Linked DNA regions of Homo sapiens. The protein of the gene in region 1 interacts with the protein of each later gene in a biochemical or structural test. Each region holds a gene or a part of one and is shown in the gene's direction. Other genes may lie near its edges.

The links. Proteins that work in one complex are often made in the same cells at the same time.
Region 2: of the proteins of MAPK14 (region 1) and MEF2A, one has a biochemical effect on the other in vitro, tested with the Homo sapiens proteins (2 studies listed by BioGRID).

Annotation. Positions count from the first base shown.
Region 1 is NC_000006.12:36,030,658-36,034,307, forward strand, and holds part of MAPK14 (mitogen-activated protein kinase 14), read left to right. Parts: intron 1-3,650. UniProt on the Homo sapiens protein: Serine/threonine kinase which acts as an essential component of the MAP kinase signal transduction pathway.
Region 2 is NC_000015.10:99,708,895-99,712,544, forward strand, and holds part of MEF2A (myocyte-specific enhancer factor 2A), read left to right. Parts: intron 1-1,739; coding exon 1,740-1,866; intron 1,867-3,495; coding exon 3,496-3,650. UniProt on the Homo sapiens protein: Transcriptional activator which binds specifically to the MEF2 element, 5'-YTA[AT](4)TAR-3', found in numerous muscle-specific genes. Also involved in the activation of numerous growth factor- and stress-induced genes.

The DNA of each region.
Region 1 (3,650 bases):
GCCTGGGCGAAAGTGCGAGACGCCGTCTCAAAAAAAAAAAAAAAAAAGATATTCAGTGAAAAGTCTCCTTTCCTTTTTGTTCTCCAGCCACTCTACTCTCTCAAAGACAGGCACTGTTAAGTGTCTTGTGTCTTTCCAGAGAGGCAGTTTTTTTTATTTGCTTGTTTGTTTAGTAGTCTTTCTACTAAAGGGATTTAAGATGTAACCTACAGCATATTGGTGAAAGAAAATACAACTGAAACTGAAATTGTATGACAATTGACAATAAACAAATTATAACTAATGTTGGAATGAAAATACCAGAATTTAGATTTACAATTAAGTGTTATCTTATTCAGAGATTCAGCGTAGTTATTTGAAGTTTTTCTTTTCTTTGAGACGAAGTCTCACTCTGTCGCCCAGGCTTGAGTGCAGTGGTGCCATCTTGGCTCACTGCAACTTCCACCTCCTGGGTTCAAGCGATTCTCCTGCCTCAGCCTCCCTAGTAGCTGGGACTACAGGTGCCCGCCACCATACCCAGCTAATTTTTGTATTTTTAGTAGAGACGGGGTTCTCCATGTTGGCCAGGCTGGTCTCAGACTCCTGACCTCAAGTGATCTGCTCTCCTTGGCCTCCCAAAGTGCTGGGATTATAGGCCTCAGCCACGGTGCCCAGCCTGAAGTTGTTCTTTCAATGAGTACCTTTTTAGGTGTGGCAGAAAACATTTTTTGGAACTTCTTTTAGAATCCACTTTGGAGCCTGTGATATTCTTCTTCTTTTTTATTTTGAGACAGAGTCTCATTCTGTTGTCCAAGTTGGAGTGCAGTGGCACCATCTCTGCTCACTATAACCTCCACCTCATGGGTTCAAGCGATTCTCCTGCCTTAGGCTCCCAAGTAGCTGGGATACAAGTGCGCAACACCATGCCCGGATGATTTTTGTATTTTTAATACAGACAGGGTTTCACCATGTTGGCCAGGCTGATCTCTAACTCCTGACCTCAGGTGATCCACTTGCCTTGGCCTCCCAAAGTGCTGAGATTACAGGGGTGAGCCACCGTCTCTGGCCATCCATCTTCATTTTTTTGAGAGCAGATTTGATTTTAGGGAATAACAGTTCATTTGAATCCAAATAATTTAGGGAATTTGGACTCAAGTCTGATAAGAAAGATAAGGCAATCAGGTTGGTGATACTACTGTTTTAGGTCAGATAGGAGTTATAACTATAAAGTAACAACACATAATTTTTTGTGTGACTTCTTGAACTGGACCTGAAGTCTACTTCCAAAAAAATCTCCGAATTTTATTTTATTTATTTATTTATTTTGTAGAGATAGGGTCTTACTGTGTTGCCCAGGTTGGTCTCAAACTCCTGGCCTCAAGCAGTTCCCCCACCTTGGCCTCCCGAAGTGCTGGGATTATAGGGATGAGCCACCACACCCAGCCCCTGAATTTTATTTTCAAGAATGAAAATAAATGAATAGAATATTTCAATGAATAAAATTCATTCATTGAAATATTTGTCAGTTTCCGAATTTTATTGCTCTAAAGTGTGGTATACTTTGTAACATTTACAAATTATTTTAAGCCTATATTATTTTAATTTATACTAAGTATAGTAAAAAAACAAGTAGAAGCCTGTGTGATAACCAACTATGAATCAAAATAGAGTTTTACAAATATGCCTTTCCGTTAAAGGGTAAAGGGAACTAGACTAGGTCTTGCAGTTTTAAGGAACTTTATGCATTGTCTGTGAGGGGAAATGAAGCAAAATTGTTTAAGAATACATTGTTGCAAAGCATTGATTTTGGGGTTTTGGGACAGAAGGGGAGAATCTTTGTGGTGAGTTTAAGGAAATACAAACAGGAACTTAAGTGCCTTTCCTCTGGGGTAGGGTTCTTCCAGGCCCTTGCTGTTGATTAGAGGAGGTGGGACACTGGTAACCATGAAATAGGAGGTGACAGTTGAGAATTACTCTTAGATCTTATTCAACTGTTTATTCAACAGTGTTTATTGAATACCTACCATGGGCCAGATAGCTAGGTTCTGGAAATAGAGTGCTAAACAAGACAGAAACAAGACAATCCATTCTCTCCTGGAACTTACAGCCTAGTGGGTTTAATAACTACATTTTGTGGATTGCTTGCTATGTTCTAGCATTGTGCTGTGCACTTTATCATCAGCATAAAAAGTATATAACAAAACCTTTGGTAAAAGGATAGCAAAACTTGCTAAGAAATCAAATACAACTTCCTAAGTGCTTTGTGGAACAAGATTATTCTAGTATAAAAGAAATAAGTGAAGCTAACTTTTTTTAACTATTAATGGCCATTCACCATTTTAAATCTATTTTTTTTTTTTTTTAGAATGAGCCAGGGCACAAAGAAATAAAAGTGCATGATTATTAAGTATACAAGGGTGACTTTCTTGACTCCTGACCAGTGAGAAGGGTGTGCCCTTTACTTTTCTAGTAGTGATAGTAGGTCCATGCTGAGCTTTCCATTCTTTTCTTTGTAACCAAAAGTAAGGTAGTTGCCTGTATGTTACCAGTGCCAGTCAATAAGAAGTCTTTAAACATAATTAACGGCAAGCATTTGTATTATTGATGTATAAAGATTGTTTTAAGAAAGAGTTCATTCGAAGCTGGCTATAAAGTCATTTTATTATCAAATCCCATTTTTCCACTTTTTTTTTTTTTTGAGACGGAGTCTTGCTGTGTTGCCCAGGCTGGGGCGCAGTGGTGCAATCTCGGCTCACGGCAGCCTCTGCCTCCCGAGTTCAAGCAATTCTCCTGCCTCAGCCTCCTGAATAGCTGAGATTACAAGTGCGTGCCACCATGCCTGGCTGATTTTTGTATTTTTAGTAGAGACGGGGTTTTACCATGTTGGTCAGGCCAGTCTCGAACTCCTGACCTTGTGATCTGCCCACCTTGGCCTCCCAAAGTGCTGGGATTACAGGAATGAGCCACCACACCCAGCCTCCACTGGTTCTTCTTTAAAATAAGCTTATCCTGGATCTCCAGGTTTTCAGTTCTGCCAGTTTGATTTCTTGATACTGAGGAGTACTCTGCTTTTGATTTCTTTCTAGCCCAGTCTCAGAGATGATGTGTTGACTTTGCCTTTCATGGGCAAGAGTGCAGATATTGCTGAGCCCCTGGGGCCTAGAATTCAAAGATGGAAGAATTCACTGGGGTAGATCACCCTCACTTTAGAATTAACTGACATTTTTAGGGATTTTTGCAGTTTATAAAGTGTTTTCATTCAAAGCATTATCAATCAGTTCTCACTAGCTCCATGGAGGCTCATATTTATTAACTCCATTTTATAGATGGGGAGCTGGACTCATTCATTAAAGGAATGGCATACTTGTCAATGCTACTTTTAGTAGTCTCCTTTCTGATAGATGTGGGCTGCTGAGGTTGCGCGGTGGCACCTTCTCTTATGCAGTTAACCTCCTCTTGTGAAAAAGGGGTTGCTGAGTCACTCGGAATAGAGCTTGAGTGTAGGAAAGCAGTTCCACCAGTGTCATTGCCCAGTTTATGTGAGGGGTAATGACTTAACCCATTTAACCCATTAGAGTCATGTCTCTTCCTCAGAACTGATAAATCAAAAATGCACTCATTGCCCAGATTAAAATTTTTTCTGAAGGAATTATTAGGCAGTGCAAATAGTT
Region 2 (3,650 bases), on another chromosome or scaffold:
ATGGGGACAGAGCGTGGGTGGTTAGAATTGAGACTAGAGAGGTAAGTAATGATTTGTAGACTATGTCAAGGATTTTGGAAACTGTCCGGAGAGCATTGGGGAGCCATAAAAAACTTTTGAAGTAGAGGAGTGCCATGACCATATTTGTTATTTTAAAAAGATGTCTTTGCTGTATATAGGGTTAAAAGGCAATGCCAGGAAGCCACATCAGAGGCTACTGTAGTGGTCCAAGCAATGGGTGCTGATAGCATAGACTAGAGAGGTGGCAGTAGAGATGGTGAGACCTGGGCAGGCTTGAGAGAGAGCAGATAGAATTGCTCAGACCTGGAAATTGATGTTGGGAGTGAGAGGGAAGGGAAGTAGCAAGGATAACACCCATGGGCTTCTGCACGAGCTGCTGGGTGCATGTTGGTGCCATGTACTAAGAGTACTTAAGGAGGAACAGGTTTGCAGGAAAGGATGGGCCATGTCAGATGTGTGGCGTTTGGAGTGGCGTCCAAATGGACATGGCACTAGGTCGTTTAAAAGATCTAGAGGTCGAAGGAGACTGTGGGCCGGAGGGAGCACTGGGGAAGGCGTCAGTGTGACGGGTCCTTGCCCCAGCCCATGGGAGTGTATAGAATGACAAGGGCAGAGTCAGGACAGCCCTGAGCACCAGCTGTGTCGCTTCAACTCCGTTCCTTTTTTAAAATGTTAATTCACTAGGAAGACCAATTTCTTTAAACACCTCTCTTGAGACATGAGAAAGAAGATAAAAGTAGAAGAGTTTTGCCACCTCTCTTTGGAACCAAGTGAGAAAGACAAGTGTTAATGATGAGCTGAAATAACTCCCCGTGTGAGTGATAACTAACGTCCTAAATCTTGGTCCCAGTGATTACGACTGAAGCATTCATATGATATGAGCTGGGTATACTCTAGGACACCGAGTTTTTTCATGAAGTTGAAACTCTTGCATGCTGTCAGGGAGTTTGCGACAGTCTAGGTACTTTAAACAAATGCGCTTACTAATTGTGTAATGATGTCACTGAGCTTGGCACCCCATGTAGGGATTCTGTCTTTCCTGTCCCCTATTCCCTGTCCCCCAACCCCTTGCTTCATTAAGACTTGCTGATTCAAACTCACTCTGGTTGAGGTTGAGTGTTTCTCTTTGTTCCAAAGGGTAGTGGCAGGCATATTTAAAGTAACAATTGTACAGAACACTCTTTAATGATGGCCTCTTATTTGAATCATCCCAGACAAAGAAATATTGCTAGATCCTGTAAATCTTCCAAGAAAAGATTTTGCGGATTTTAGACCCACATGTATGTTGTTTTGTTGTGAAGTATCTGGCTTCTCTCAATGTAGGAACTTTTTATTTTATTTTTTTTTGAGAGGAAGTCTGTTGCCCAGGCTGGATGGAGTGCAGTGGTGCTACCTCGGCTCACTGCAGCCTCTGCCTCCCGGGTTCAAGCAGTTCTCCTGCCTCAGCCTCCCAAGTAGCTGGGACTACAGGCATGCGCCACCACGCCTGGATAATTTTTGTATTTTTAGCAGATACGGGGTTTCACCATGTTGTCCAGGCTGGTCTCAAACTCCTGACCTCAAGTGATCCGCCCATCTTGGCCTCCCAAAGTGCTGGGATTACTGGCATGAGCCAGCATGGCTGGCCTCAATGTAGGAACTTTTGCAGTAGCTACGTAAAAAATAGATTCCGTATGGACCTTCCATCATATGCAGAGCCCTCTTGTCTTCCTTTGTAGATTATTCACTGACCAGCGCTGACCTGTCAGCCCTTCAAGGCTTCAACTCGCCAGGAATGCTGTCGCTGGGACAGGTGTCGGCCTGGCAGCAGCACCACCTAGGACAAGCAGCCCTCAGCTCTCTTGTGTGAGTAACTAGAAGTTTTCCCTGCATCTTTACTCCTGGCCTACACACTCTCTTTTCCTATCAGTGACAGCCTTTTGCTCTGTTGAGTTTCGTGTGAGGAATCCTGTAATGATTCCTTTTCAGGTAGATACAAGTGTCGGGAGAAAATATTTTCTTACATGGCTCTAGACAGTAGCTTGGATACTGACAAACTAGGCATTCCTTGAAGGGATTTGGGGAGCAAGGCTTCTCCCATAGGGACATCCTGAGGTAGAGAGACTCAACCAGGATCTGAAGGGGTCTGAAGGCACAGATACCACCCGCATGCACCATCCTTCTGCCCTCTGACCAGTGATGAAGCTGCCTACTGCACCCCTGCTCCCAAGCACCTGCCTCTGGCTGCACTGCTTGAAAGGCAGCCTGTAGGCATTCAGGCCTCCCTGCCACCCTTGCCATTGACTGCTTTGGTGAGTATCTGTAGACAAGAATAGGAAGACAAGCTGGAGCTTTTGCTTTCTCCCTGGGCCACAGGGAAGGAAAACTGGGGACAGGGTGTCTTATATATCAGTCAGGCTCCATAGGATTTGTGTGACTGATCCCAGCCCAATGCACACACCAAACCTCATTCACAAAGAGAATGTTCCGTATGGGCAGGGTGTAAGGATATAAGCAAAGAGGATTTACAGTGGCGCCCAGATGAGGCCAGACATCCCTGACAGCCGGGAGAAAGAACAGGGCTTTTGTGGAACCAGGATGACAGCAGACCCATGGAGCAGTTGGAGGAGAGTGTCCCAAGAGAGGGGACAACATAGCAGACCCAGCTGGCCTCCATGAAGACTGGCTGCCTTGCCTGTGCTCTGGGCAGTAGGAATACCCCAGGCCCCTAGCCTCTGCCCAGGAAGTCCCCAGAGAGCCTGAGCTCAGCAGTCCCTTTCCCTCATCCATTCTGAAGTAACTGCACAGTGAGGATTGTTGTCAGTGGTCTTCTTAGGAATTATGTCATGGAAAAAGCAGCAGAGTATCTCAGGGAAATTTGCCTACACAGGATTTGGCCCTCAGGCCTGTCCTGAGCATCCTAAATGAATGCACTAAAAATAGTCCTGGAAAAGCAAGTGGAAAGGGCTCAGAGCCCAGGCCCGGGGAACAGCCTGTTTGCGTCCTCCTCTACTGCTCTCAGCCAGCCCCTCATTTCCTCATCTGGAAAATGGGGATGGTGCGACTTGCACCTTAGAGGTGTTGCGAGGATGAGCGATGTTGTGCCCTGTCACAGGGCCAGAGCAGATGGGGAGCAGATGCTGAGGAAGAAGAGGCGGTGAGCAGATGAGGCTGCTGTTCCTCTGTCTTTCTGGTCCCTGCACAGCATTAAGACACTGACATTGTTTTGTATACTTTAGCTGCAAAAGTACCAACGTTGTGGGTAACAGAACCAAGTAACGTAAGGGCTCAACGGTACTGTTTTCTTTCCTCCTAGGAAGATGGGATTTCCTTTTGTGCCAAGCACTGAAGGAAACGACCCAAACCAGTCTTGGGGAACTCTGATAAGATTTCAGACTCTGGGCCCTTTTCCATCAGGCAGTGTCTCTACTGTATCATCCCAGTTTTGCAGAGGTACTTGCAAGCCATCTGACCTCTCTCTTTTTTTTCCTTCAGTGCTGGAGGGCAGTTATCTCAGGGTTCCAATTTATCCATTAATACCAACCAAAACATCAGCATCAAGTCCGAACCGATTTCACCTCCTCGGGATCGTATGACCCCATCGGGCTTCCAGCAGCAGCAGCAGCAGCAGCAGCAGCAGCAGCCGCCGC